Linked DNA regions of Homo sapiens: regions 1, 3 and 4 are each linked to region 2. The links come from fine-mapping of genetic effects on plasma protein levels. Region 2 holds a variant in brackets. A gene starts in each other region. All regions are shown on their reverse strands.

Region 1 (8,218 bases), not on the chromosome of region 2:
ATAGTGACTCTTGCTTGGAGCATTCTAGCAACAAAATGATTCTCTCTTTTCTCAGATTCCCATTTCCCACATTTTTTAAGTAGATAAGAAGACTTTTTTTGTTTTGTTTTGTTTTGTTGTTTGTTTGTTTGTTTGAGACACAGTCTTGCTCTGTCATCCAGGCTGGAGTGCCTGGCATGATCTCGGCTCACTGCAACCTCCACCTCCCGGGTTCAAGCAATTCTCCTGCCTCAGCCTCCCAGAAGCCTGTTTTTCAGCTAGTCAGCAAGTAGCTGGACTTCCCTTTGTTTGAATAGGAACTTGAAAGCTTTGATGAATGTTGTGAAGGGTGTGGAAGTGATTAGAGAAATGGAGGCTACCGAGGAAGAGGGAGGAAGTGAGGGAGATACTCACGGAAAGGCTTCATGTTCCCACAAAAACAGCAGCCTTTGGATTTGAGAGGACAACCTTTATTTGCCCTCTTAACATAAAGTAGTAACCTCTGGAGGACTTGAGGCTTGGAGTAAAAACTCACAAATGGCAAAGGAAGAATTTTCCCTCCTCCCAAAGGGGTGCTAACTCAAAAAAATCACATAGGCAGGGTTCTTAAAGGACCACAGAATGAGGTCCTACGCAGGTGGACAAACTGCTTCAGAAGGCACCAGAAAATTTGGCCCTGGGACATAATGGGGATAAAAAGCATATGATAAGTCATAAGGAATTGGCAGAGCTGAGGTTCCCATTAGTATCTGTCCTGGCAATGTGCTAGCAGACAGGGAAAGGGTTGGAGGTCATCTGAGCTGGTAGGGTAAGAACAAATGTAAATCTCAAGGGATATCCAGAAGGGAGCCCATGTCTTTGCTGCTACACAAACACAGCAAGAGCCATGGGCCACAGCAAGAGCCACGGGCACAAGAGCAACTGGGAGTGTGTGCCTAAGAAGTTACATGGCATGAAAAATGAAAACAGAGAAAAGGCAAATTGCCCCCGAGGTGGACGGTTCAGTGGGTGCGCAAGGCCATTTCAGAATACATCCAGAGAAAGCAGGAGAATAGGCATCGCAGGTTTTGGGGAAAGAGCCAATTTTAGTTGAAAAAGCAGAGGAAACCCCAGAAATTGCACAGTCTCAGGCTTTAGCCCTATCACTCTTGCAAGCCTCCTGTCCAGGACGGCAGAGAGGAATTGTTTTAGGGGTTGGTTAGTAAGCAGGAGAGCAAAAGGGAGAAGAAAACCACATATGTGGGTTGAATGACTCCAGCCAAAGAAGGCGAGGTGTAGAGATCTCTAACAACCAGAGAACAAATCTGAGTCATGGAACCAAAGTACGTTAGTGTCCCTTCTCCCTGATTCTTTCCTTGGGGTGGGCTGTCTGCATGCGCAGTGGCCTGCTAGTACTTGGGAGGGGCCACACATTCAGTGTGTTCACTGGAGTTGTATGCATGCTCACCTGAGGCGTTCTTCTTCTCTTCTTTCTTTTTTCTTTGAGACAGAGTCTCTCTCTGTTGCCCAGGCTGGAGTGCAGTGGCATGATCTTGGCTCACTGCAACCTCTGCCTCCTGGGTTCAAGTGATTCTGATGCTTCAGCCTCTTGAATAGCTGGGATTACAAGTGCTCACCATCACGTCTGGCTAGTTTTTGTATTTTTAGCAGAGACGGGGTTTCACCATGTTGGTCAGGCTAGTCTGAAACTCCTGTTCTTAAGCAATCCATCTGCCTTGGCCTCCCGAAGTGTTGGGATTGTAGGCATGAGCCACCATGCCCTGGTGCTGGCTGCGACCAATTATTATTTTAGAGAGGCACATTAACAATTGTCTGACCATCACCTGATGGTCGCCTGTCATTGCTGGTGGTGTGGGAGGCTCTCTCCTGCCCTGCTCACGTCTGCCTGACTACCTACTGTAACATTAGCCACCTGTTCTCATCAATTCTATCTTCTGGGAGATCGACCCTGTTCCTATCTTTGCTCTCATTGTTTCTGGGGAAAATTTATTGGAATGACTTCACTTTCTCTCACTCTCCAGGCACTAGCAAAGCTGTGCCTGTTGTGGCATTCAAGGCCCTGCTTAACCTACCAGGGGTCTGTCTTCCATCCTCAGCTCAATACCATACCCCTCCTTGAACATTTTTGGGCTACTCAAGGCCCTATATTCTCTGAGTTCCTAATTTCACATTGGCATGACTCTCATAGTGTTTCCTATGTGTTCTCCATTTCTTGTAGGCATATTGCAGATCCCCTGATGCCCAGAACCTTGATAACCCCAGAGTCTGTGTGCATAGTAGTTAGGCATGCCAGCTGGAGCATCAGACAGACGTAGATTTGAATTTTGATTCTGGTTCTAATTAGCAAAATGCCCTTGGGCAAGCCATTTGACTTGTCTGAACCTCAGTTATCTCTTCCGTAAAATAAGAATAGTGTTTATAAATATCCTCATGTGAATGTTGGAGGATTATTATTTTGTTGTTTTGTTGTTGTTTTTGTTTTTGAAACCTGATCCTTCTGTAAAATGTTGGAGGATTAAATGAGATAATATAGGCAAAGGTCCTGGCAAGTACTTGACTTAGTAGATACACAGAAAATAATAGCTTCTGTCATTACTATCACTTTGTCAAAGTCAAGCAGTAGGTCAAGTGCCCACCAGATTAGATACTGAGAAGAGTGTGTATTTTAATTCACATCATGAGGATTGTTGACCTGTACTTCATCTTCTAGGGTCTTTGCAGCCCCACCTCTGGGTATGCCCAAACTTCAGGGATTTCTGCAACCAGGGCTTTGGTGCAAGAACAGCTGATTCACTTAGGGCAGGGAGAGGGCTTTTGAGCCTTTATTGGTCACTTCTCTCAGACTTGTTTTTGAATCTATGCAGAAGCCTAACTAGCTAGTCCTGAACCTCAGAATGGGCACCCATAGTACTTCAGTGCCCGCTGTTACCATGCAAAAGGAGGAAGATTCCTTGGCTTAAGTTTATATTTCATCCTTTGTTTTAACATCAGCCTATATCCCATGGCTATTAATTCACATCTAAGCAGACTGTTGAGAATTATAGAGCTGTTTACTTGTCAATCTAAAAGAAAGAGGCTGAAACACAAAATATGATTTGAAGACTTTACTTGAGCCAAAGGGAGGACAGCTGCCTGGAAGACTCAGACCCAAGTAAAATTGGTTTTGAGCTCTGCTCAGCCTTTGTTACAAGCAGGTTTTTAAAGGCAAAAAAAGTGATACAAAGTTTTTTTTTTGGAATTCTCATTGGTTTGCAGAAATAACATTAATTAGTGATTGGTTACATATTGTTAAGCTGTAAGGTGTGGGTTATATGTCCAGTGCAGCATTATTAGATTAATTTATGGTTACTTGCAGCAATAGCAAGTAGTTTTAAGAGGTGAATACATAGCCCAAAGGTGGAGTAGGGGGAAGTAAAATGTGATTTCTGTCTCATTTAAATGTCTCTCTGATAATTTGAAGGACTCACATTCTTCAGATAAAAGTTCTTTCCTTTCTTCAACTTTTCACAACAACATTCAAAGGAGGTATTTTAACATTTATTTTTATTTTTACTTTTAGTAGAGATGGGGTTTTGCCATGTTGCCCAGGCTGCTCTCAAACTCCTGAGCTCAGGCAATCTGCCCTCCTCGGCCTCCCAAAGTGATAGCGACAGGAGACAGACAAATTCCTGGACAGATAGAAAAGGGTCCCTGGTGAAACTAGACTTTCAAGACAAAGACAGTTTAAAGCCTGAAAACTGGGCTGCCAGTTCTGGGTAGAGTCCACAACCAGAGTGAGAACTTCCTTGATACCTTTTAGCTAATCGAATGGTGCTTTTTCCAGGCCTGCCTATGGACAAATCTGAGCCGATGAAAACCCCAGACTCAGCCTCACAGAGGGCTACCTGTTTTGGGGCCCCTCTCACACAGTGGTCTACCCACTGTCTGGTCCCCTCTTTGCTGAGAGCTTTCCTTCTGTCACTCAATAAAATTATTCTCTGACCTACTCACTCTCCTTTGTCTGCATGCTTTATTCCTCTTGGTTGCAGGACAAGAACCCAGGACCTGCTGAGCTGCAGGTGGCAGGAACAAGCTGTAACATACCCGTATTTGCTGAGCTGTGGGCACTGGGACCAAGTGAGAGCTGTGACACACCCCCATTCACTGAACTGCAGGCAGCAAGACTAAATAAGAGCTGTGACATGCCCCCATTTGCTGAGCTGCAGGCAGTGGGACTGAACAAGAGCTGTGAGGTGCCCTCATTTGCTGAGCTGCAGGTGGCAGGAACAAGCTGTAACATACCCGTATTTGCTGAGCTGTGGGCACTGGGACCAAGTGAGAGCTGTGACACACCCCCATTCACTGAACTGCAGGCAGCAAGACTAAATAAGAGCTGTGACATGCCCCCATTTGCTGAGCTGCAGGCAGTGGGACTGAACAAGAGCTGTGAGGTGCCCTCATTTGCTGAGCTGCAGGTGGCAGGAACGAGAGAGAGAGCTGTAACATTTCTTGGGGTCTCAGGCCTTGGGATTCCCCAAGCAAAGCTGTAACACCCCTTAGGGCTCCGCAGTTGCTGGCATCTCCGAGTTTCTTAGTGCCACTGTGTTCCCTTCATTTAGACACTGGTGCCCAAGGTGGAAGCAGGTCACAGCACTCCCCGTCCTGCCACTGACTGAGTGTGGATCCTATGGCTCAGGAGTTCAAGACTGGCCTGGGCAACATGGTGAGACCTCATCTCTACAAAAAATTTTAAAAAAATAGCCATGCATAGTGGTCACTGTACTCCAGACTGGGTGACAGAGTGGGAGCCTGTGCCCCCCTCCCCCCAAAAAAGAGAATGTAACATTAATTTACAGGGTCTCTTTTAAAAATCTAATACAATGTTATCTTTTCTTGCTGAAGGAGCAGGGTCGTATCCTAAGGTTAAATCAATTTATAGGAAAAATATAACACACAGTTCCAAAGTGTAACAATTTGACCAAGAGGAATTTGATTCTGGTGCTGTTTCAAATTTTATTTGCAGGGTTCTTTCTTTTCACTTTTATGTTTTTTTCCCTTTTATTTTTAGTTGACATATAATAATTATACATATTTATGGGATACAGAGTAATATTTTGATACATGTATTCAATGTGTGATGATCAAATCAAAGCAATTAGGATACCTATCACCTCAAACATTGATCATTTCTTTGTGTTGGGAACATTCCAAATCCTCTCTTCTAGCTTTTTGAACATATACATTAAATTATTCTTAACTGTATTCACTCCATAGTGCTACAGGATGCTGGAACTTATTCCTCTTCTCTAGCTGTAACTTTGTATCTATTAACCAACTTCTTCCCATCCTCCACTTCCCTCTACCCTTCCCAGCCTCTGATAACCACAATTTTACTCTCTACTTCTATGAGCTCATTTTTTAAGCTTCCATATATGATTGGGAACGTGGTTTTTTATCTTTCTGTGCATGACTTATTTCACTTAACATAATGTCCTTCAGGTTTGAGGACTGAGAAGAGCAGACATTTTATTGTTCATCTCCATGTTGAGAATCAGAAATGTCCCCAATTAAAAAGTGATTACAAATATGTTATATCAGGAACTGTGGCTTGCCTGTGGGTCCTGGGTGGGCAAATAACTAATTTACATTCAATAGGAATGAGCTTGAAATTTCCTAGACATGATATGATTTGGCTGTGTTCCCTTCCAAATCTCATCTTGAATTGTAGTTCCCATAATCCCCACATATCATGGGAGCAACCCAGTAGGAAGTAAGTTAATCATACGAGCAGTTACCATCATGCTGTTCTCGTGATAGTGAGTTCTCACTAGATCTGATGGTTTCATAAGGAAGGGGCTTTCCCCATTGCTGCTCAGTGCTTCTCTTTCCTGCCACCGTGTGAAGAAGGACGTATTGGCTTCCCCTTGCACCATGATTGTAGGTTTCCTGAGGCTTCCCAAGCCATGCTGAACTAGAAGTCAATTTAACCACTTTCCTGGCCAGGCACAGGCCCATGCCTATAATCCCAGCACTTTGGGAGGCTGAGGCAGGTGGATCACTTGAGGTCAGGAGTTCAAGACCAGCCGGGCCAACATGGTGAAACCCTACTAAAAATACAAAAATTAGCTGGGCATGGTGGTGCTTGCCTGTAATCCCAGCTATGTAGGAGGCTGAGGCAGGAGAGTTGCTTGAACCTGTCAGGTGGAGGTTGCAGTGAGCTGAGATTGCACTGCTGCACTCCAGTCTGGGCTACAGAGTGAGACTGCATCTCAAAAAAAAAAAAAACCAAAACAAACAAAACAAAACAAAACCCCTCTCTTTCCTTTATAAATTACCCAGTCTGGGGTATGTCTTTATTAGCAGTGTGAGAACAGACTAATACAGACTACAAGGGTGGGAAATCCATTCTTTTGGGCCAAGTAATCTTACTTTTTTTCTGATGTTCAGTGGATAGGCTGATGTCAAACTTCAAATAGTGAATTATCATAAAGGAAGAAGAGCAGAGGGTGGTGCTGGGGGTAAGATATGCAGCACAAAGGCTACGTGGGTCTGATTTCCCAGACTTCAGGCTCTGAATGACACCTACCCAGGCTTGACTGGGAAGCTCCTATGTCTTAGCCCCTGAATTAATCAGAGGGATTCCTGCCTGGGAACGAAAAGCAGACATTCTCTATCAGGGTCCCTTATTCTTTTCTGAGTACTGGCCCCCCTGAGAGTACAGTAGAAGCTATGAATCTTCCCCCTACAAAAAAGCACTCATGTACCTTCAAACAAAATTGTTCTCAGTTTCCGTGATGCTCTTAGATAAAAAAATTTACAAGACCTCCGGTTTCTGGTTTCTGGGGCCCCACACAAGTGTGCTGGGTGGAGAGAAAATCTCAGTGGTTTTTTTTTTTTTCTCTCTAACCCTGTTTGGTAAGTTCCGTTTTTAGCCCCGGCCTTTTTCTAGCCAGGCTCTCAACTGTCTCCTGCGTTGCTGGGAAGTTCTGGAAGGAAGCATGTGCTCCAGAGGTTGGGATTCGTGTCTGGCTCTGGAATTGCTACTGCTGCCTCTGTCACTCCTGGTGACCAGCATTCAAGGTACTTTCCACCAACTGTGTATCTGTGATTGTGCACTGAAGGCATGGTCAGTTGGGAAAGGGGAGACGGGATGTAGTTCAACCCTAGAAGCCAGATCTGGTGTCTGGAAAGCAGGTATTTCCATTCCAATAGCATGGCCATGGCATGGTTGGGGAGCCTTTCTTAGCACTGATGAATGGAGCTTCATCTCCTTTCCCACGGGGATGTGATCAAAACAGGAACCTGGGGAGCAAGAGAAGTAGGCTCCTCATATTTTGTCCCGTGGTTGGTGGTCCATGAAGTTGTGGAAAAGTGTTTGTTTTTTCATTTTGAATAAGAAGAAGCTCTACACTGACAGCTGCTGCATTTTATGCTCAGACACACTGTACTCCCTTAGGCATTCTTTGAGACCTCTGTATATGTGAGGTGTTGCATCCTGAGCCAAGGTAAATGATATTGTCATTGACCCAAAGAAAAGATAGATCAAAATTATAGGAAGAAAAGCTTGGAAAGGATTGCTGTCTGGGGTCTCTGAATGAGGGTCTGAGAAGAGGCTGGAAGTGCTTCAGCATCAAAGGAACCTTAACACATCTGATTGCTAAGAGTTAAGGTCCATTCCTCTGCCACAGCCTGTTCGGTCCCCGGTGTGTGACCAAGGGCTGAGCTAACTTTCCTTCTCCTGTTAGAGCTGCCTCACCCTCTTTCTTCATCCAGTACCTCTCTTCTTATGCCAGCTGAGAAACAGCAGTGAAACCTTTGACTTTCTTGCTATTCCCCCAAGTAAATACTCAAGTCTTTTTAATTTAAAGGGCTTTAATGCTCACCACTCTGAGTAAAACAGTAAAAATCAACAAACATGTGGTAGTCACACTGTGGCATAAAATGATGATAGTTTGTAACTTTTGGGGAGATGAGGTAGAATGTGTGGAGGATCGGTCTCTCACATATTCTACCTCTCAGGTAGAGTCCTTTGGTTCATGACTGTGTGAGTCTACGGCTATATAGGTTCTGTGGGCCTGACTCAATGCATAGGACATTGGTATGACCTTGGGATTGGGGGCTGATGTGAAGTATTCATCTAACTATTGGGAAAAGCAGGGTTGCCAATGAGAATTGGAATATTTTAGGACTTTCTCTAGGCATACTGAAAACATCCTGACAGTTGACCTTTCTCTGACTTCTTTTCTAGGCTTCATCTTGG
Region 2 (7,821 bases):
GCTGTGTTGCCCAGGCTGGTCTTGAACTCCTTGGCCCAAGTGATCCTCCCACCTTGGCTTCACAAAGTATTGGTATTATAGGAGTGAACCACTATGCCCAGCCAGTGAGCTTATTTCACACGTTCTTTTCTATAGGGAAACCTCAAGTGCTCGCAGAAGCATCGGCAAGTCAGGCGTCCTGTTTCTCGGATGGATACCCATTACCATCTTGGACCTGGAAGAAGTGTTCAGACAAGTCTCCCAAGTAATAAGGACATTGATGCCTCTTATAATGGAAGAACATAAAACTCTCTGACCTATTGACTCTTTCATGAATACAGTTTAAGAGGAAATGATGAAATATTTAAAATGCTAACCTTCTCAATCAACCATAACTCTCAATAGTCATAGACTGTTTCTGATAACTTATACTGGATGAATCTCTTTTAGAACTCGCTGCAGAAATCCTAACTTCCAATCTGATGACAGCTCACCTGTCTAAATTCTTTGCTATTTTTTTTTTCAGCTGCACAGAAGAGATCACAGAAGGAGTCTGGAATAGAAAGGCTAACAGAAAAGTGTTTGGACAGTGGGTGTCGAGCAGTACTCTAAACATGAGTGAAGCCATAAAAGGGTTCCTGGTCAAGTGCTGTGCATACAATTCCCTTGGCACATCTTGTGAGACGATCCTTTTAAACTCTCCAGGTACAACAGTTGTTCTTGTGATATTCCACCATCAGGAATTCCCCACTAGAAGTTAGTCCCCATCGCTGACTTTTACTTGGGGAATTTTACAGGAGAGTATAGGGTCAGTGTGTGAGAAAAGGTTTCTTGAGTCAGGCAAGAATCCCCAGAGAGACTGTTTCACAGGTTGGGGCGGAGTCCTCCCTGTGCCCTTGTGACTCATGTGTCACAGTGACCGGGAGAAGCAGAAACTCCCAGTGTGGTGAATCTCCATGGAAAGATCTAACTCTAGAGAAACAGATTTTGTCACTTGGAGTCTCTGTCATTTTCCCTTTTGATTAGCCTCCTTATTTGCCCTCAGCTTGCTGTTTTATAATTTTTGGTTTGCTTTTTAGAGCCCTCCTAAGTTAAACAGTTGTGAAACCTGGCTGCCCACCCTAGTAGTTAGGATCACCAACCTCACAAAACTGACTTCTCCACTTTCATGTGCGACCTTCATAAAAGGGATATGAACTTCTTTTTTCTCTGACTTGTACATCCTGTAGGTTTAAATCCATGCATTTTTTTTTTTGAGATGGAGACTCGCTCTGTCACCCAGGCTGCAGTGCAGTGGCGTGATCTTGGCTCACCTCTGCCAGGGTTCAAGCGATTCTCCTGCCTCAGCCTCCCGAGCAGCTGGGATTACAGGCACCTGCCACCACGCCCAGCTAATTTTTGAATTTTTTTAGAGACGGGATTTCACTGTGTTGCCTGGGCTGGTGTCTAATTCTTGGACTCAAGTGATCCTCCCATCTTGGCCTCCCAAAGTGCTGGGACTACAGGCGTGAGCCATCGTGCCTGGACCAGATGTAATTCTTGTAAATTTACCCTAGTAAATGGTTTTAAAGAATGGATTGAGAATAATCCGCAATTTTCTAGGGAGGAAATGTATCCTTTACAGGGACATTGCCTGATTGTCTGTGGGGAGTAGAGTATATGTAGAGTGGTTGTTAGGACTGAAAATGATTATTACTGAAACAGGATGTGAGAGATTATAATGAGTTGTCCACTATTTATAATGTCACACAGGAATTCTGTTTCATCGCTGAGTGACACTCTTTTGTTGCAGGCCCCTTCCCTTTCATCCAAGACAACATCTCATTCTATGCAACAATTGGTGTTTGTCTCCTCTTCATTGTCGTTTTAACCCTGCTAATTTGTCACAAGTACAAAAAGGTAAAAGCAAAGGTAAAAATTCATTATTCTTTCCTCTATCTGCAGAACTGCCTATTCCTAACTGACTCATCATTTCATCTCTGAAGCAATTTAGGTATGAAAGCCAGCTACAGATGGTACAGGTGACCGGCTCCTCAGATAATGAGTACTTCTACGTTGATTTCAGAGAATATGAATATGATCTCAAATGGGAGTTTCCAAGAGAAAATTTAGAGTTTGGTAAGAATGGAATGTGCCAAATGTTTCTGCAGCATTTCTTTTCCATTGGAAAATCTTTAAAATGCACGTACTCACCATTTGTCTTTGCAGGGAAGGTACTAGGATCAGGTGCTTTTGGAAAAGTGATGAACGCAACAGCTTATGGAATTAGCAAAACAGGAGTCTCAATCCAGGTTGCCGTCAAAATGCTGAAAGGTACAGTATAGTGGAAGGACAGCAACAAAGATGCACAAAAATGGGAGGCACAGTTTCCCACCCATGCCTTCTTCTCTTTTCCATCCTTTTAATGGTTACTGTTTGCCATGTTTCAAGGCTAAAAATGGAGTGGATTGGGGTGTCAACCCAGTCATGAATACAAAATTCAAGTCATAAATACAAAACTCCACCTCTTCTTCCACTTCTCTCTTTGTTTATTTTTATTTTCTTTTATTTTTTTGAGACAGGGTCTCACTCTGTCACCTAGGCTGGAGTACAGTAGTGTGATCATGGCTCACTGCAGCCTCCACCCCCTGGGCTCAGGCTCCTCAGCAGCTGGGGCTACAGGCGTGCACCACCACGCTCAGCTAAGTTTTTTATTTTTGGTAGAGACGGGGTTTCACCATGTTGCCTAGGCTGATCTGGGACTCCTGAGCTCAAACTATCTGCCCGCCTCGGCCTCCCAAAGTGTTGGGATTACAGGCGTGAGCCACTGTGCCAGGCCTATTTAGTTTTTATAGGCTTTGATATTTGGGGATACAGTTGCCACAGGCAGAAGTTCTTTCTTACATTTGTGTTGTTTTATTTTTAGAGACAGGATCTTGCTCTGTTACCCAGGCTAGAGTGCTGTGATCATAGCTCACTGCAGCCTCGACCTCCTTGGCTCTAGCAATGCTCTCACCTCAGCCTCACAGGAGTGTGCCAAGACAATTGGCTAATTTTTTTTTTTTTTTGTAGATACGGTGTCTCACCATATTGCCCAGGATGGTTGCAAACTCCTGGCTCAAGTGAGGCTGCCTTGGCCTCCTAAAGTGCTGGGATTACAGGTGTGGGTTGAAACAGACTCTGGGTAGGAGAGAAAACTGGGGCCCTTTGTATCCTCACTTCGTTGCTCCATCCATTCCGATCTGGCGTCCAGCCCCATTGCTGGCCTCACCGTTACCACCGCTGACCCAGCAAAAGCATCTCCAGCTGGCTCTCTTGCTAAGGTCAACAGTGACTTCAAACCAAACCAAGCCTAATGGATATTTTTCAGTCCTCATTACTTGATTGTTCAGCATGAATTGATGCTGTTGATTCTTCTCTCCATCCAGAAGCTTTCTTTCTTTGGGTTTTGTGTCACCATATTCTGGTTTTCCTCCCACCCCTCTGCCCTTCTCAGTCCTTTGTGGGCTCATCTTCTTCCATCCAGCTTTTGTTGTTGTGGCTGATTTTGAAACTCAGTCCTTTGTGGGCTCATCTTCTTCCATCCAGCTTTTGTTGTTGTGGCTGATTTTGAAACACAGCCTTGCTCTGTTGCCCAGGCTGGAGTGCAGTGGTGTGATCTCAGCTCACTGCAACCTCCACTTCCCAGGCTCAAGCCATCCTCCCACTTCAGGCCCCTGAGTAGGGGGGACTACAGGCATGCGCCACCATGCCTGGCTAATTTTTGTATTTTTGGTAGAGATGGGGCTTCGCCATGTTGCCCAGGCTCCATCCAGCTTTTTATGGGGCATCCCTGTGGGCTTGCTCCTGGACCGCCTTGCGTTTTCGCTCCACACACTCAACACAGTCCATCCCCACTACACCCGTGATGTCCTCCCATACACCAAGGGCCCTCATGCTTGCGTCTCCTTTCGGAGCTTCAGGTTCATATGTTAAATGTTTGGATGTCTCAAAGGTCCCTTTAACACAGTGTATGCAAGGTGAATTCCCCTAACCCTGGCCCTGCACCAGCAGTCCTCTCTGTGACTGGTAATGAATGCCAGTGAATAAATAACCACATTCTATATAGTTGGGCACACTAGAAACCCGTGACTTTTCCTTGACACCTTCCTCTTTCTAACACCCTGTGAGCTAATCCTATCAGGTTTCCGATTAGTGTCTCTTGATTCCATCCTCGTCCCTCCATCTCTATGACCACCACTCTAGTTCAAGGCTCTCTCCTGGACAAAAGCTTCCAAAGCAGGTTCCTGTATCCACTCTTGCCTCCCTTTGGCTTCTCCATACTGAGGTCCAAGTGACAGTGGCGAAAGGCTAAGCAGATCAAATGGCTTTCCTACTTCACATTTCCTCCACCACCCGCATGGCTGGGCCACCGCTGCCTCCCCACCTCTTGCTCTCGGCACCCCAGAGCGCTGGCCTTCTTTCAGTTCCCCCAGCACTGTCCTCCCACCCACTGTGGGGCCTTTGCACAAGTGGATCCTTCTGCTTCCCCTTCCCCTTTCATGTAAGTATCTCCCACTGCCCCCTCAGATCTCAGCTTAAACACCACTTCCTCTGTCTCACACCACAGACAATATTGAGGCCCTTGCAATGTGCGACATTAGCTCTCTGCAGGCTTTCCCCCGTAGAATCCATCACCTTTGTCATGACATTTTTTAACATCCAATTGTTGTCCCATCTGTCCAGTAGCCCCTGTGCCTCATGAGGGCAGGGTCTGTGTCTGTGGTGCTGTGCTCTCTCCTTTCTCGACCTTTGCCCACTCTTTCACAACCCTCAGCACTGTTCTCCTCCCCTTCCACCATGAGTCACCTGGCCAGCTCCCATTTTTCTTCAGGACTCAGTTTAGACATTGAATGCTCCTTTCTCCACCCCTCCAAGGCTAAGGTAGCTATCCCTTTTGACCCTACAGTACCCCTGCACTCCTTTGCCACGTTGCATTTTTTCTTCTTTTTTTGAGACGGAGTCTCACTCTGTCGCCCAGGCTGGAGTGCAGTGGCACCATCTCAGCTCACTGTAAGCTCCGCCTCCTGGGTTCACGCCATTCTCCTGCCTCAGCCTCCCTAGCAGCTGGGACTACAGGCACCCACCACCACGCCCGGCTAAATTTTTTTGTATTTTTAGTAGAGACAGAGTTTCACCGTGTTAGCCAGGATGGTCTTGATCTCCTGACCTCGTGATCCGCCTGTCTCAGCCTCCCAAAGTGCTGGGATTACAGGCATGAGCCACCGTGCCCAGCCCAACGTTGCATTTTTTCTTTTTCTTTCTTTTTTCTTTTTTTGAGATAGGGTCTCACTCTGTCACCCAGGCTGGAGTGCAGTGAAGTCATCATAGCTCACGGCAAGCTTCAAGTCCTGGGCTCAAGTGATGGTCTGCAGCCTTTCCAGTAACTGGAACTACATGCAGGCACCACCAAGCCCAGCTAATTTTTATTTTATTTTATTTTATTTATTTATGTATTTTTACTTTATTTTATTTTTAAGTAGAGACAAGCTCTTGCTATTTTGCCCGGGCCTTTCTTGAACTTCTGGGTACCAGCAATTCTCCCGCTTGTCTCAGCCTCCCAAGATGTTGGGATTAGAGGCGCGGGGACCCACGTCTTGCCTGCCGTATTGCATTTATGGCACTGTATTGTCATGGCTTATTTACTTCTCTGCCTTCTCCAGGAGACTCTAAGATCCAGGAAGACAAGGGTTGTGTCTTGTTTTTCCTTCATTCCCCAGTGTCTAGGACATTGGCTCTTACAGAGTAGGCACTCAATAAATACTTGTTGAATGACTGAATGAAAGAGGTAATGGTACATGAAAATGCTTAGAAGAAGCTAAGCATGCTAAAAAATGTAAGATATTATTTTAGCCATGAGGAATAGGACATGAACAAGTAAAGCCCCGAATCCCTGTCCAGCGTGAAGCTGAAGACATGATGTATTAGGGGGTCCCAGTGCCCACAGGAAATCCCACCCCCAAGCTAAAATCTTGGAAACAAGGATACCCCTGAGAGCTTGCCCAAACCAAAATAGAGGATGTCAGCACCGGAGAAGCCACTATAAAGGTTAGGATGCCTTCCTGGACAAAATAATGGAACCTGGCAATCGAACCAAATCTTCACTGAATGTAAAGAAGAGTTACTATATCTGGAAGAAAAAGTCTGTTCACAGAGGGGTGGTGCCTGGAGCCTGGAGAGGGAAGTCCAGAGACCCTGCCCTTGCCCCTGTGGCTGCCCGGGCTGCCCTGACCAACTGCACATGAGCCGCAATGACGGGAGCCCTTGGATTCCATAGTGACTTTCCTCACACTGTGCTTCTAAGTCAGCTT[A/G]TAAGTACAGTTTGCTGAGCTATCTGGAATTTTCCCTAGAGAGAGAATGCATTGGCCAACCAATATGTTCTAGCCTGCTTGGCAGTTTTATTTCTCAATGTCAATTAATGGGTCTCTTGAGCACCTGATAGTGGGAATTAGTCCTCTTTGACCTTCTCCCATTGGACTTGCTGGCAAATCTAATGTTCTAGACCTGAGGGCCACAGGCTAGAGTCAACCATGCTCACGACACTGTTATCTCTCTCTGACTACAACAGATCCAAGAGTTCAAACAAACAAACAAAAAGGACGTTTCTCCCTTCTGTTAACTTGTACTGAGGAGGAAAAGCATGTGTTATTATTTTGTTTGTTTGTTTTGAGGGCCAACTGTAAGGATTTTTATTTTGGTAGGTAGAGGAAAGTCCTGTTGAAAGGTGCATTACCAGATTCAACATTTATACTATAGTCTTTGTTTTGTTTTGTTTTGTTTTGTTTTTGAGACAGAGTCTCGCTCTGTCACCCAGGCTGGAGTGGTGCAGGGGCTCAATCTCGGCTCACTGCAACCTCTGCCTCCCCAGTTCAAGGGATTCTTTTGCCTCATCCTCCTGAGTAGCTGGAATTACAGGTACGCACCGGCACGCCCGGCTAATTTTTTGTATGTTTAGTAGAGACAGGGTTTCACCATGTTGGCCAGGTTGGTCTTCAACTCCTGACCTTAAGTGATCCACCCGCCTTGGCCTCCCAAAGTGTTGGGATTACAGGTGTGAGCCACTGCGCCCAGCCCTATACTACAGTCTGAATTCTGCCTTAGGCTGGGCATGGTGGCTCATGCCTGTATTCCCAGCACTTTGGGAGGCGGAGTTGGGAGGATTGCTTGAATCTAGGAGTTCAAGACCAGCCTGGGCAACATGGTGAGACCCCATCTCTACAAAAAATATAAAAATTAGCTGGGCATGATGGCCTGTGCTTGTAGTACCAGTAACTTGGAGGGCTGAGGTAGGAGGATCACTTGAGCCCAGGAGGCAGAGGCTACAGTAAGCTGAGATCATGTCACTACACTCCAGCCTGGGTGACAGAGTGAGATACTGTGTCAAAAAAAAAGAAAGAAAGAAAAGGAAAAAAAAAAAAGAAAAAGGAGAAATTCTGTCTTAAAACACAGGATATTGTTTGTTTGTTTATTTATTTATTTATTTTAAGATGGAGTTTCACTCTTGTTGCCCAGGCTGGAGTGCAATGGTGCAGTCTCAGCTAATTGCAACCTCTGCCTCCCACATTCAAGCGATTCTCCTGCCTCATCCTCCCAAGTAGCTGGGATTACAGGTGCCTGCCACCACGCCTGGCTAATTTTTGTATTTTTAGTAGAGACGAGGTTTCACCATATTGGCCAGGCCAGTCTTGAACTTCTGACCTCAAGTGATCCACCCACCTCGGCCTCCCAAAGTGCTGGGATTACAGGCATGACCCACCATGCCTGGCTTCTCTCATAATTTTGAATTTAAATAAATAATGCAGATTGACTCTGAGCTGAGAAAAA
Region 3 (3,038 bases), not on the chromosome of region 2:
TGGGCGACCGCCAAACCTTAGCGGCCCAGCTGACAAAAGCCTGCCCTCCCCCAGGGTCCCCGGAGAGCTGGTGCCTCCCCTGGGTCCCAATTTGCATGGCAGGAAGGGGCCTGGTGAGGAAGAGGCGGGGAGGGGACAGGCTGCAGCCGGTGCAGTTACACGTTTTCCTCCAAGGAGCCTCGGACGTTGTCACGGGTTTGGGGTCGGGGACAGAGCGGTGACCATGGCCAGGCTGGCGTTGTCTCCTGTGCCCAGCCACTGGATGGTGGCGTTGCTGCTGCTGCTCTCAGGTACAGAACCCACGACGAGGCCTGTGGGGTTTGCTCTCATCTCCAGCTGTCTGGGCCCTGCGGCTCTGCCTCCTGCTTGCTCCACCCTCCTCCTCTGTCTCTCACTCTTTACCGCCTGTCTCCCTCTCATGGCCCTGGGGCCTGGGTCTGTGGGTGTCAGCTGCACGTGGTGATGGGCTCAGGAGCCTGTGGCCCCAGTTCCTCTCCTGCCTGGAGAGCATCAGGCTGAGCTGGGCATGAGGAGCAAACCAGAGTTAGCAACCAGGACCGTGGAAGAACTAGGCTCAGGAGGAAGAGAGGCTGAGGGCGGTGCCTGGGGGTCGGGAGGGGAGAGGCTGTCCCAACCGGACCCTGGAAGATGCAAGATCCAAATGTGGTCCCCTCCTCTGGGAGGTGAAAGATCCTCCGGGCTGTGACTTTCTTCCTGTCTCTCTTTAAAAAAAAAAAAAAAAAGAGAGACAGGGTGTCCCTATGTTGCCCAGGCTGGTCTCAAACTCCTGGACCCAAGCGATCCTCCTGTCTTGGCCTCTCAAAATACTGAGATTTCCCTGTCCCTCCTGTCTCATTCAGATGCCTGCTCAAAGCCACCATGAGGGTCAAAGGCAGAAAGGGGGCTGGGGGCAGGGCTTCCGGTACCCCCACCCCATATCTGTCTCCCAAGTACTGGGGGCAGGGAGGACCGAGGGGTCTTGAAGCTGCTGTCATGGAAGGAGGAAGTAGCTCCGGGAACATAGAGGGCATGCAGGGGTGGGGCAGCCCAGGCCAGAGGAGGCCCTGACTGGCCCCGCCCACTTCCTCCCACCCAGCAGCTGAGCCAGTACCAGCAGCCAGATCGGAGGACCGGTACCGGAATCCCAAAGGTCAGTAGCCTCGCCTGCCGCTTCTGAGGGCAAGTTGTGTGCGACTATGTCCTGTGTCCGACTATGGTCCCTGTCCTGGGGGCGGTCCGCCTTCCCACCCTTGCCTGATCTCCCCATCCAGGATTCCCATCCCCAGGCCTCCTTAGGATCTCCTCTGAGCCCCACCCCCAGCCCACTGTCATCCTCATCAGACACATGCCCTCCAGCCTTGGCCACTGAAGGGCTGGGCTAAACTCTGGGTCATAGCAAGGGAGCCTGGGGGTTCCTCTAGGACTCAGGCCCGGGCCTGTCTAGCTGGGAATCTGGCTGAGTCTCGGGTGAGCCCTCCAGTGCAGGGTCACTATGTGAGGGGCTCAGGGATTCCCGGGCAGTGCTCACTAAGAACAAGGCAGTCGAAGCTGGAAAGAGGGTTCTGGAACAAGAAGTGGACCCAGTCCCTGCAGGAGGGAAGAGGGGGATGATAGAGGGAAGTCATGCAGGGAGGGGGTCGACTGAGGAAGGTCTCAGTTGACAGACTAGGAATTTGGCCTTTATCCCTGGAGGAACGGGGGAGACTGAGGATTTCAAGCCTGTGCAGGGCAGCCCAGTGAAAGGAGGGGCCAGGCCTGTGGGCCTCCAGGTCCTGGGGGTGTGGCCTGGGTCAGGCTGTTGTAATGGGCATAGGAAGGAATGGCAAGGTCCCAGGGCTCTTCCAAAGGAAAATCGAAGGGGAGGTGGGGCAGTCGGGAAGAGGTGGAGTCTGAGAGCTTGGCCGTGGCTTCTCATGTGGCTCAGCCTCTCACGTGGCTCTGCTTCCCAACTCCAACCTCAGCCTCCTGCCTGTCCCACACCCTGAGAAGCAAGGACTAAGCCCAGGGAGTCTGTGCCAGCCAGGGCAGGGGCCTGCTGCTGGGGCTGGCACTCAGGAAGATGCCAAGCGGAATGCTGAGCCTGGCCTTGGCACCCACAGGTAGTGCTTGTTCGCGGATCTGGCAGAGCCCACGTTTCATAGCCAGGAAACGGGGCTTCACGGTGAAAATGCACTGCTACATGAACAGCGCCTCCGGCAATGTGAGCTGGCTCTGGAAGCAGGAGATGGACGAGAATCCCCAGCAGCTGAAGCTGGAAAAGGGCCGCATGGAAGAGTCCCAGAACGAATCTCTCGCCACCCTCACCATCCAAGGCATCCGGTTTGAGGACAATGGCATCTACTTCTGTCAGCAGAAGTGCAACAACACCTCGGAGGTCTACCAGGGCTGCGGCACAGAGCTGCGAGTCATGGGTGTGTGCCAGGTGGCTGGGACGCTCCTGTAGCTGTCCGCCCCACCCTAGCCCGGCCTGCCTCTTGTGGTGATGGTCATGGCCCTAGAGCACTCAGGAGAGCCACTGGGACCTGAGGGAGCTGCCCTTGTAGGCCTAAAAGGTGGACTGTGGCCCAGGCTCACAACCCCACCCCTGTCCCCGCAGGATTCAGCACCTTGGCACAGCTGAAGCAGAGGAACACGCTGAAGGATGGTATCATCATGATCCAGACGCTGCTGATCATCCTCTTCATCATCGTGCCTATCTTCCTGCTGCTGGACAAGGTGATCAGGGGACGGGGGAAGCCTTGGGGGACCGCAGAGGAGGCCACCGCATAGGCCAGGCATATGCAGGGTCTCCATCTCCCCAGCTCTCGTTGTGGCCTTCTTGGTCCAGCCTGTCCCCACTGGCTCACCAATTCAATCATTCCTTCCTTCCTTCCTTCATTCAGCTGTTCTTGCAGAATGCACCTCACTCCTGACCCCTCACCCCTCTCCCTGGCCCTCCCCAGCCTGGCCCAGCAGGGGATGGGGCTGGGGGACACTAACACTCTGATCTCCATCCCTCTCCGCCCCCAGGATGACAGCAAGGCTGGCATGGAGGAAGA
Region 4 (8,280 bases), not on the chromosome of region 2:
GCCGCAGTAAACATACGTGTGCATGTGCCTTTATAGCAGCATGATTTATAGTCCTTTGGGTATATACCCAGTAATGGGATGGCTGGGTCAAATGGTATTTCTAGTTCCAGATTCCTGAGGAATCGCCACACTGACTTCCACAATGGTTGAACTAGTTTACACTCCCACCAACAGTGTAAAAGTGTTCCTATTTCTCCACATCCTCTCCAGCACGTGTTGTTTCCTGACTTTTTAATGATTGCCATTCTAACTGGTGTGAGATGATATCTCATTGTGGTTTTGATTTGCATTTCTCTGATGGCCAGTGATGGTGAGCATTTTTTCATAAGCCTAAGTAAGTACCTTTACCAGTAAAATCTTCCAAACATTTAAGGAAGAAATAACATCAGTCGTACACAAACTCTTCACGAAAATAGAAAAAGAAGGAGCTTGCTTATGAGACCAATATAATTTTGTTACTAAAATTCATCAAGAAAGAAAATTGGTCCATCTTCCTCATGAACACAAATGCTAAAAAGCACAGCAAATTTATAAGTCAAATTCAAGAATATATAAAAAAGATAACACATCATGGCCAAGTTGGAATGCACAGTTGATTTTACATTTATAATCATCCATGTAATTCATCATATTAACAATAAAAGTAAATAATCATATGATCATATTAATAGAGGCAATAAAGGTATTTACTGAAACAGCATCCATTATTTAGGAAAAAAGGAAAATTTCTTAGCAAATTAGAAATATAAGGAAAGGTATTTAATCTGATACATAGTATTCACCAAAAAAAATTACAGAAAATATTATATTTAATATTGAAATATTAAGAGCTTTTTCTGTGAGACTAAGACAGGACACCTGATATTACCACTTCTCTTTAGTATCATGTTTGAGTTCCTAGTCAGTGCAATAAGTGAGAGAAAAGGAAGTTTAAGTATTAAAAATAATGAATAAAACTATCATTATATGATTGTGTTTGCATGAAATCTAAAATAACCTAAAGATAAACTATTAAAATTAATAAGTAAATTCCGCAATTTTAGTAGATATTAAAAGGTCAGTAAGGCCGGGCATGGTGGCTCACGCTTGTAATCCTAGCACTTTTGGAGGCCAAGGCGGGCAGATAACTTGAGGTCAGGAGTTTGAGACCAGCCTGGCCAACATGGTGAAACCTCATCTCTACTAAAAATACAAAAATTAGCTGGGCATGGTGGCAGACACCTATAATCCCAGCTACTTGGGACGCTAAGGCAGGAGAATCGCTTGAACCTGGGAGGTGGAGGTTGCAATGAGCCAAGATCGCACCAGTGCACTCCAGCCTGGGGGACAAGAGCAAAACTCTGTCTCAAAAAAATAAAAATAATGGTCAGTAAAACAAAAAAGTATTATATTTCTATATACCAATATACATTTAGAAAAAAATCTAATGATGTCACTTACAATATCATAAAAAACATATCAATAACCTAAGGATAAACCTACCAAAAGATATACTTTCCAGAGGCAAAGCTATAGAAAATTACTGAAAGAATGTCAAGTTAACCTAAATAAATGAGGGGATATTGTATGTTTATGGATTGGGAGACTAAATCTTTTCTAATTTATACAAATTAACTTATAAATCCAATGCAATCCCAGTTATTAAAAATCTACTAGGCTTTTGGGGAGAGAGGGGACAGGAATTGACAAGGTGATTTTTAAATGTATAGAAAAATTCAAAAAGCCAAAAATAGCCATAACAATTTTGAAGAAGAACAGCATTTTATGACTTAAACTATCAGTTAATAAGAGTTATTATAAAGCCACAATAATTAGAAGAGTGTGGTATTGGCATGAGGATAGACAAAATAGACTAATGGACAAGAAAGGAGTTTCCAAAAATAGACCTACATGGCTTTTTGTTTTATAACAAAGGTGAAATTGCACTGTACTGTGGAAAAAATCAACTTTCAATAAATAGGGCAGGATAAATTATCTGTATTTAAGTTAAAAGTGAATATAAACACTCAAACTGTACACAAAAATCAATTGCAATGCTCTTATAAATATAAAATAAATGGTAAAAAATAAAGTTTCTAGAAGATAACCTGGGAGAGTATCTTTATGATCTTGGAGTAGACTAACTTTCTTAGAAGGGATGCAAAAATCTCTAACCACAAAGGAGAAGACTGATAAACTGGACTATGTCAAAGTTAGAATGGTTGTTCATCAAAAGGCACTATCAATGAGCAAAGAAGCAAGCCACAGATTGAAGGAAGACATTTGCAATACATATATCCAACAAAAGGTTTATATTCAGGGTTTAAAATAACTACAAAACAGGAAAAGAAAGACTGAAAGTTAAGAGAAAAATGAGGAAATATTTGAACAGAGATTGCACATAAAAAGGATATCTACATCACCAATTAGACTATGAAAAAATGCTCATTCTCAAATTCACCAGAGACATACAAATTAAAACCACATTGAGATAATTCTAGCAGAACGGCCAGATTTTACTAGATGACAATACCAATATCAGCAAGAATTTTAGAACAATGATAACTCTCATACATTGGTTGGTGGGTGTGGTGGGAATTGGCACAACCACTTTGGAAAATAATTTGGTAATACTTCCTAAACTGAATATATGCATACCTTATGAGCCAGGACTTCCACTCCCAGATATATACCCAACAGAATTATGTGCGCATATGCCCCAATAAATGTATACAAGAATGTTCATAGCAGCACTATTTGTTTTAGCACCAAAAGTAGGTAAAGATTCTGTGTTCCCTTTGAAGTTCTCCTCTTAATCTCTATTCACCCCTGTAACCCCTGTATGGTTTTCTTGCCTCAGGGTGCAGTGGGTCAGATGTGACATAATATACCTAAGGTGATGTGCATTTGTAGATATAAAATTAAATGCCCCCTTAGGAAGACCAAGGTATGGGCCCAGAGAGAAAGGGTGAGAAAATATTTGAAAGAAAGAAACTGGCACTCCTCGTGGCAGCTAATGTCTTAGGAACCTCTGTTGACCAGTATACCAGGATGGAAACTTGACTTTTAGAAAATCATAAGAGCTATACATTCACCTGGTAATTTTTTAAAAAATCAAACGGTACAGAAATACATAAAATAAATTGTGTTCTTCCCACCTATTGCTCCTCAAACATAATCAATATTTTTGTGTGTACTTTCCAGGAAAAGAAGAAAGTATACTTAAAAGAGTTGATGTACACATATATCCTATTTTTTATATTTACCCAATGGGATAATACTACAAAACCAATCTATATCTCACTTTTATTCTCTTCACATCAAACAAGGTGGTCTTCCCTTCTTGGCATGTTCAGATTTACCTTATTCTTTAATGATTGCTTGTCACCATACGGATGAATCAGAATATTCTTAAACAGTCCCCATATCATGGTTTTTTGTTTTGTTTCCAGTGTTTAGGCAATAATGAATGCTACAATAAACGTTCTTATAGTACTCTCTTCAGATACTTCCTTCAGGGTAATTTCCCAATAGCAAAAATGTAGGGTCAAGGGTATTTGATTTTTTAAAACCTTAACTTTTTTTTTTCTTTGATCATCGGGTAGGAAACTGTGATTAGCAGCTGAAGACGGGTACTCCCACTTCCTTTTTTCAATTCACTAATGCATTCTGCTCTTTTTGAGAGCACAGCTTCTCAGATGTGCTCCTTGGAGCTGGTGTGCAGTGTCCTGACTGTAAGATCAAGTCCAAACCTGTTTTGGAATTGAGGAAACTTCTCTTTTGATCTCAGCCCTTGGTGGTCCAGGTCTTCATGCTGCTGTGGGTGATATTACTGGTCCTGGGTGAGTAAAAGGGCTCACCATGGGCCCTGGGTGGGATCGGGACAGCTTCTCTCTCCACCGCAGGCCTGGTCCTTTCTTGGGGCTCAGCCCCTGCTGAGAGACTCTCTCCTACATTAGGAGACTGTATTTTTGAACTTTACTCTGTAGCTCAGGGCTTTCTCTTGAGGCTGAAGAAAATGGCCACAGCTGGAAGGAATTTTCAATCTTACAGAGTAGGAAACCACAATAACCACAACAATTAAAATTTCATTTATTTTTTTCTTTAAAAAGTACTTCTTAAAGTCCAGAGAATGTTTCATGTTTGTTTGTTCATATTGTCTTACTCATAGAAGAGCCCACTCTCCTCTCTGCAGAGGAGATGTATTTATTCCTTGTATGACAAGGCCAGATCCTGGTCCCCAGCATAAGAGGCAAGGTTTCTAACGGGAAAGACAGGTCTTTCTCTTGTACATAATTGCAAACCACTGCAGCAATTGGCTGATTAAGAACATGGGGTGGAGGAGGTCGCAGAGGCGTAGGTGGACAAAGCAAGGATAAATCTAAAGCATATGACTTTCTCTTTGTCCCTGTGGGTGTACGTAAGTCTCTATCAACTCATATGTGCGAACTGGTTGATTTTTACTAAAGGTTAAATATTATAATTAAATATGTTTATTTATTTGTTCAGCAAATGTGTTTAGTAATATCTATGCACAGGTGCTGAGCAATTAGAGTCCATAGGAGACACTACGTCTATGTTCTGGAAAGTCATGACATAGAAGGGCTCCCAGCAAGGCCAATGTACTTTCAAGCAGCTATGCAACAAGCTCCCAGTTAAATAATTGTCCAGGCAAAGTTACCAATGAATGCTGTAGGCAGATAATAAACTGTATTCAAAATAGCTAGTAAAGACTTCATGAAACTTAGAGGTGAGTAGGAGCTAGAGGAGCAGAAATGGAGCAGGCGTGATATAAGAAAAGAGGACCTCACAGTTGGAAGGTGCATGGACTATAATTCCTGAAGTAGGAATACATCTCAGTGTGGCCCCACACAATGTGGGTAATGGCCAGGTCCTGAGCATGAGAGGGCAAAGTTTATAACATGGGCTCTGGGGTCAAACAGGATCTAGGTTCAAACTTCATCTTGCCACCTACTGGCTACCAGATTCCTGGTCTACAAAATGCAGTTAATCCTAGTGCTTACCTCACAGGATTATTGACATGGTTATATGAAATAACCTACGTAAATGCAGACCATATAGAAACCACTCACAAAAATATTAGCTTCATTTAAAACAATGCAAAGATGAAGGAAGCCAAAATATTCAGGTGAATGGTGAATAATTTGTTGTTCTCAGTAAAACACTTAAGTTTGGATAAGTCTCCAATAGCCTCATGTGGACAGGGATGATTTGTCTCTCACACACTCCTGGATTTCTATTGCCTTGCTCTGGAGTATGATTGGCATTCCAAAAATCTGTTGAATAAATAAATCAACCCATATGCAGAATACCTACTCAATTGATAAACCTGCCAGTTTTGTGTCCTCTCTCTCTTCATTACCCATTTCTCAAATCTCTATCCTTCTATTCCTATATTATTAACCTAGTTCTTTAATTAATTCATTATACAACACAAATATATTTAGTGAACATTAAAGGAATATCTTTTATATGCCATTCACCGTTATAGGTCCTGGAGGATATATGGTGAACATAAGGAAAGTCCTAGGTCTCATAGAGCTTGCATTATAGAGAAGGGAAAATAAACAAGCAGATAATGAAGATAATTTGGATAAATACTCTGACAAAAATTACACATTACCATCTCTTGGGCTGAGCATCAGGTCTAAATAATCTGAGCATCAGTTGATTGTTTAAAAATTAGGCATGATGATAATGAGCCCTTGGATTCAATGATCTCATGAAAAGAGTATAGCCTGGAGTCTGGTGCCCAAGGGAGGCTTAATTCATGTCCATTTCCTTGCCCTGCCTTCTAATCAGTCTCCCTGCTTCATATTGTCCCATTAAATTCTGTCCACTGACAGAGTGCTCCATCAAAGTCTGAAATTCTAACCTTGTCAATCTCCTCCTTGAAACCATTCCATGACTCCTTATCACTTTTATAATAAAATTAGAACCACTTACTCAGGCCCTGCATGCTTCTCTGGTCTTATTTCCCCCAACACTCCCAGTTCCTGAGCACCAATGTCATTTCTCCACTTCTGTGCCCTTTCTACCTTGAAAGGTAGAAATCGCCTCTTACCACACACAAATGCTAACATCCACCTGCAGACTCATGTTCTCACTCACAGTTTTGTGAAGTATCATCTCCTTCAGGTACCTTCAAGGATCCACCCATCCTGTTCAACACATGTACACACAAACACACACTCTACACACACACATATATCCTACACACTGGGCTAGTGGCCCTTCTGCCCCCAACATACCCCATGTGTATTTCTGTTATTGCACTTACACCCTGTGTTATATTATTTTAAATCGTGTTTCTGTTTTTCCACTAGTCAACTTCTTGATGGCAGATACCATTTTTAAAATTCATTGTAGAAGTCCAAATACCATGCCATATATATATGTATATATATGTATATTTATGTGTATATATATACATTTGATGAATAATTATTAGAGTTTTTAAATGAATTTTTTAAAGGGACAAGTAATACATGCATGGGTAAAAAAGGGAATTATCTTCTTAAAACAAAATAATCATGGTTCTGTGCTCATCTCTGGCTCTTATTTTTTTGCAGCTCCTGTCAGTGGACAGTTTGGTGAGTTCTCCTGTCTTTGGCTCTTCAGCGTCTCTGGTTAAGAGTGTCTCTTCCTAATAAATAGAAAACATTTGTGATGGCTGCCTGAGATCTCCAATATCTCCTGTTTTCTTTCCTTTTTTTTATTATACTTTAAGTTTTAGGGTACATGTGCACAACGTGCAGGTTTGTTATATATGTATACATGTGCCATGTTGGTGCGCTGCACCCACTAACTCGTCATTTAACATTAGGTATATCTCCTAATGCTATCCCTCCCCCCTCCCCCCACCCCACAACAGGCCCTGGAGTGTGATGTTCCCCTTCCTGTGTCCAAGTGTTCTCATTGTTCAATTCCCACCTATGAGTGAGAACATGCGGTGTTTGGTTTTTTGTCCTTGCAATAGTTTGCTGAGAATGACAGTTTCCAGCTTCATCCATGTCCCTACAAAGGACATGAACTCATCATTTTTTATGGCTGCATAGTATTCCATGGTGTATATGTGCCACATTTCCTTGATCCAGTCTATCATTGTTGGACATTTGGGTTGGTTCCAAGTCTTTGCTACTGTGAATAGTGCCGCAGTAAACATACGTGTGCATGTGCCTTTATAGCAGCATGATTTGTAGTCCATTGGTTATATACCTGGTAATGGGATGGCTGGGTCAAATGGTATTTCTGCTTCTAGATCCCTGAGGAATCGCCACACTGACTTCCACAATGGTTGAACTAGTTTACACTCCCACCAACAGTGTAAAAGTGTTCCTATTTCTCCACATCCTCTCCAGCACCTGTTGTTTCCTGACTTTTTAATAATTGCCATTCTAACTGGTGTGATATGGTATCTCATTGTGGTTTTGATTTGCATTTCTCTGATGGCCAGTGATGATGAGCATTTTCTCATGTGTCTTTTGGCTGCATAAATGTCTTCTTTTGAGAAGTGTCTGTTCATATCCTTCACCCACTTTTTGATGGGGTTGTTTGAATTTTTCTTGTAAATTTGTTTGAGTTCATTGTAGATTCTGGATATTAGCCCTTTGTCAAATGAGTAGATTGCAAAACTTTTCTCCCATTCTGTAGGTTGCCTGTTCACTCTGATGGTAGTTTCTTTTGCTGTGCAGAAGTTCTTTAGTTTAATTAGATCCCATTTGTCAATTTTGGCTTTTGTTGCCATTGCTTTTGGTGTTTTAGACATGAAGTCCTTGCCCATGCCTATGTCCTGAATGGTATTGCCTAGGTTTTCTTAAAGACTTAAATGTTAGACCTAAAACAATATCTCCTGTTTTCTTGCTGAGGTCAGCAGGGATTTCAAAGTGATGCCTGGTTTTTTGGCATCGTCCAAGGGCCAGGATAGCTTCATGGTCACCCTCTGACCCTCCCTGGGGGAAGGGGTGAATGCCCAAGCAGCTCCCAGCCTTTGCTAAGCCCTGCATTTACTATTATTGCCAACAGACCCCATTTAGCCAGGCAGGACATCTTCAACTCCATGGCAAGTATATTGACTCAGGATAGGATCCTCTCAATCAGCGAGCCAGAAAAATACCCTGAAAATATCCCACTGTGCTGATGCCAGCAGGAATGCTGCATTCTCTACACTTTGGAGTAAAATCCTCCAGGACATCCAATAACTGGGTCCTTACAAAAAAGAAAGGCACAGAAAGGGGAGATGGGGAGAAGACAAGTTATCTGCATCCCACATTTAATTAG

Alleles and levels. Alleles are on the strand shown, and positions count from the first base shown. The strength of an association depends on the size of the effect and on how common the allele is.
For the plasma level of the protein whose gene starts at base 6,898 in region 1, G is the high allele of the variant in region 2 and A is the other (weak association).
For the plasma level of the protein whose gene starts at base 154 in region 3, G is the high allele of the variant in region 2 and A is the other (weak association).
For the plasma level of the protein whose gene starts at base 3,638 in region 4, G is the high allele of the variant in region 2 and A is the other (weak association).

The links. PIP is the posterior inclusion probability: the model's chance that the variant is causal. The UK Biobank Pharma Proteomics Project read protein levels with antibody pairs (Olink). The fine-mapping took linkage between variants from a reference panel, not from the people measured, so its PIPs are less certain.
Region 1: it holds the start of CD48, and the variant in region 2 is fine-mapped to the plasma level of the CD48 protein (UK Biobank, PIP above 0.99).
Region 3: CD79B starts here. The variant in region 2 is fine-mapped to the plasma level of the CD79B protein (UK Biobank, PIP above 0.99).
Region 4: FCRL5 starts here. The variant in region 2 is fine-mapped to the plasma level of the FCRL5 protein (UK Biobank, PIP above 0.99).

The regions. Positions count from the first base shown.
Region 1 is chr1:160,710,502-160,718,719 of GRCh38, reverse strand. CD48 (CD48 molecule) reads left to right here and starts at 6,898. Exons shown (of 4, transcript NM_001778.4): 1 at 6,898-7,038. The coding sequence starts at 6,957. RefSeq lists enhancers at 5,870-5,929, 6,470-6,649.
Region 2 is chr13:28,028,358-28,036,178 of GRCh38, reverse strand. FLT3 (fms related receptor tyrosine kinase 3) reads left to right here. Exons shown (of 24, transcript NM_004119.3): 11 at 136-244; 12 at 506-684; 13 at 1,772-1,878; 14 at 1,965-2,097; 15 at 2,188-2,292. Among named protein-coding and RNA genes, the nearest start is that of URAD, 44 kb to the right of the region's middle. The variant A/G (reference allele first, on the strand shown) is at 6,309.
Region 3 is chr17:63,929,447-63,932,484 of GRCh38, reverse strand. It overlaps CD79B (CD79b molecule), which reads left to right and starts at 154. Exons shown (of 6, transcript NM_000626.4): 1 at 154-290; 2 at 1,100-1,150; 3 at 2,100-2,411; 4 at 2,597-2,715; 5 at 3,010-3,038. The coding sequence starts at 224. RefSeq lists enhancers at 1-174, 148-537 and a silencer at 1,235-1,304.
Region 4 is chr1:157,547,873-157,556,152 of GRCh38, reverse strand. It overlaps FCRL5 (Fc receptor like 5), which reads left to right and starts at 3,638. Exons shown (of 17, transcript NM_031281.3): 1 at 3,638-3,821; 2 at 6,573-6,593. The coding sequence starts at 3,791.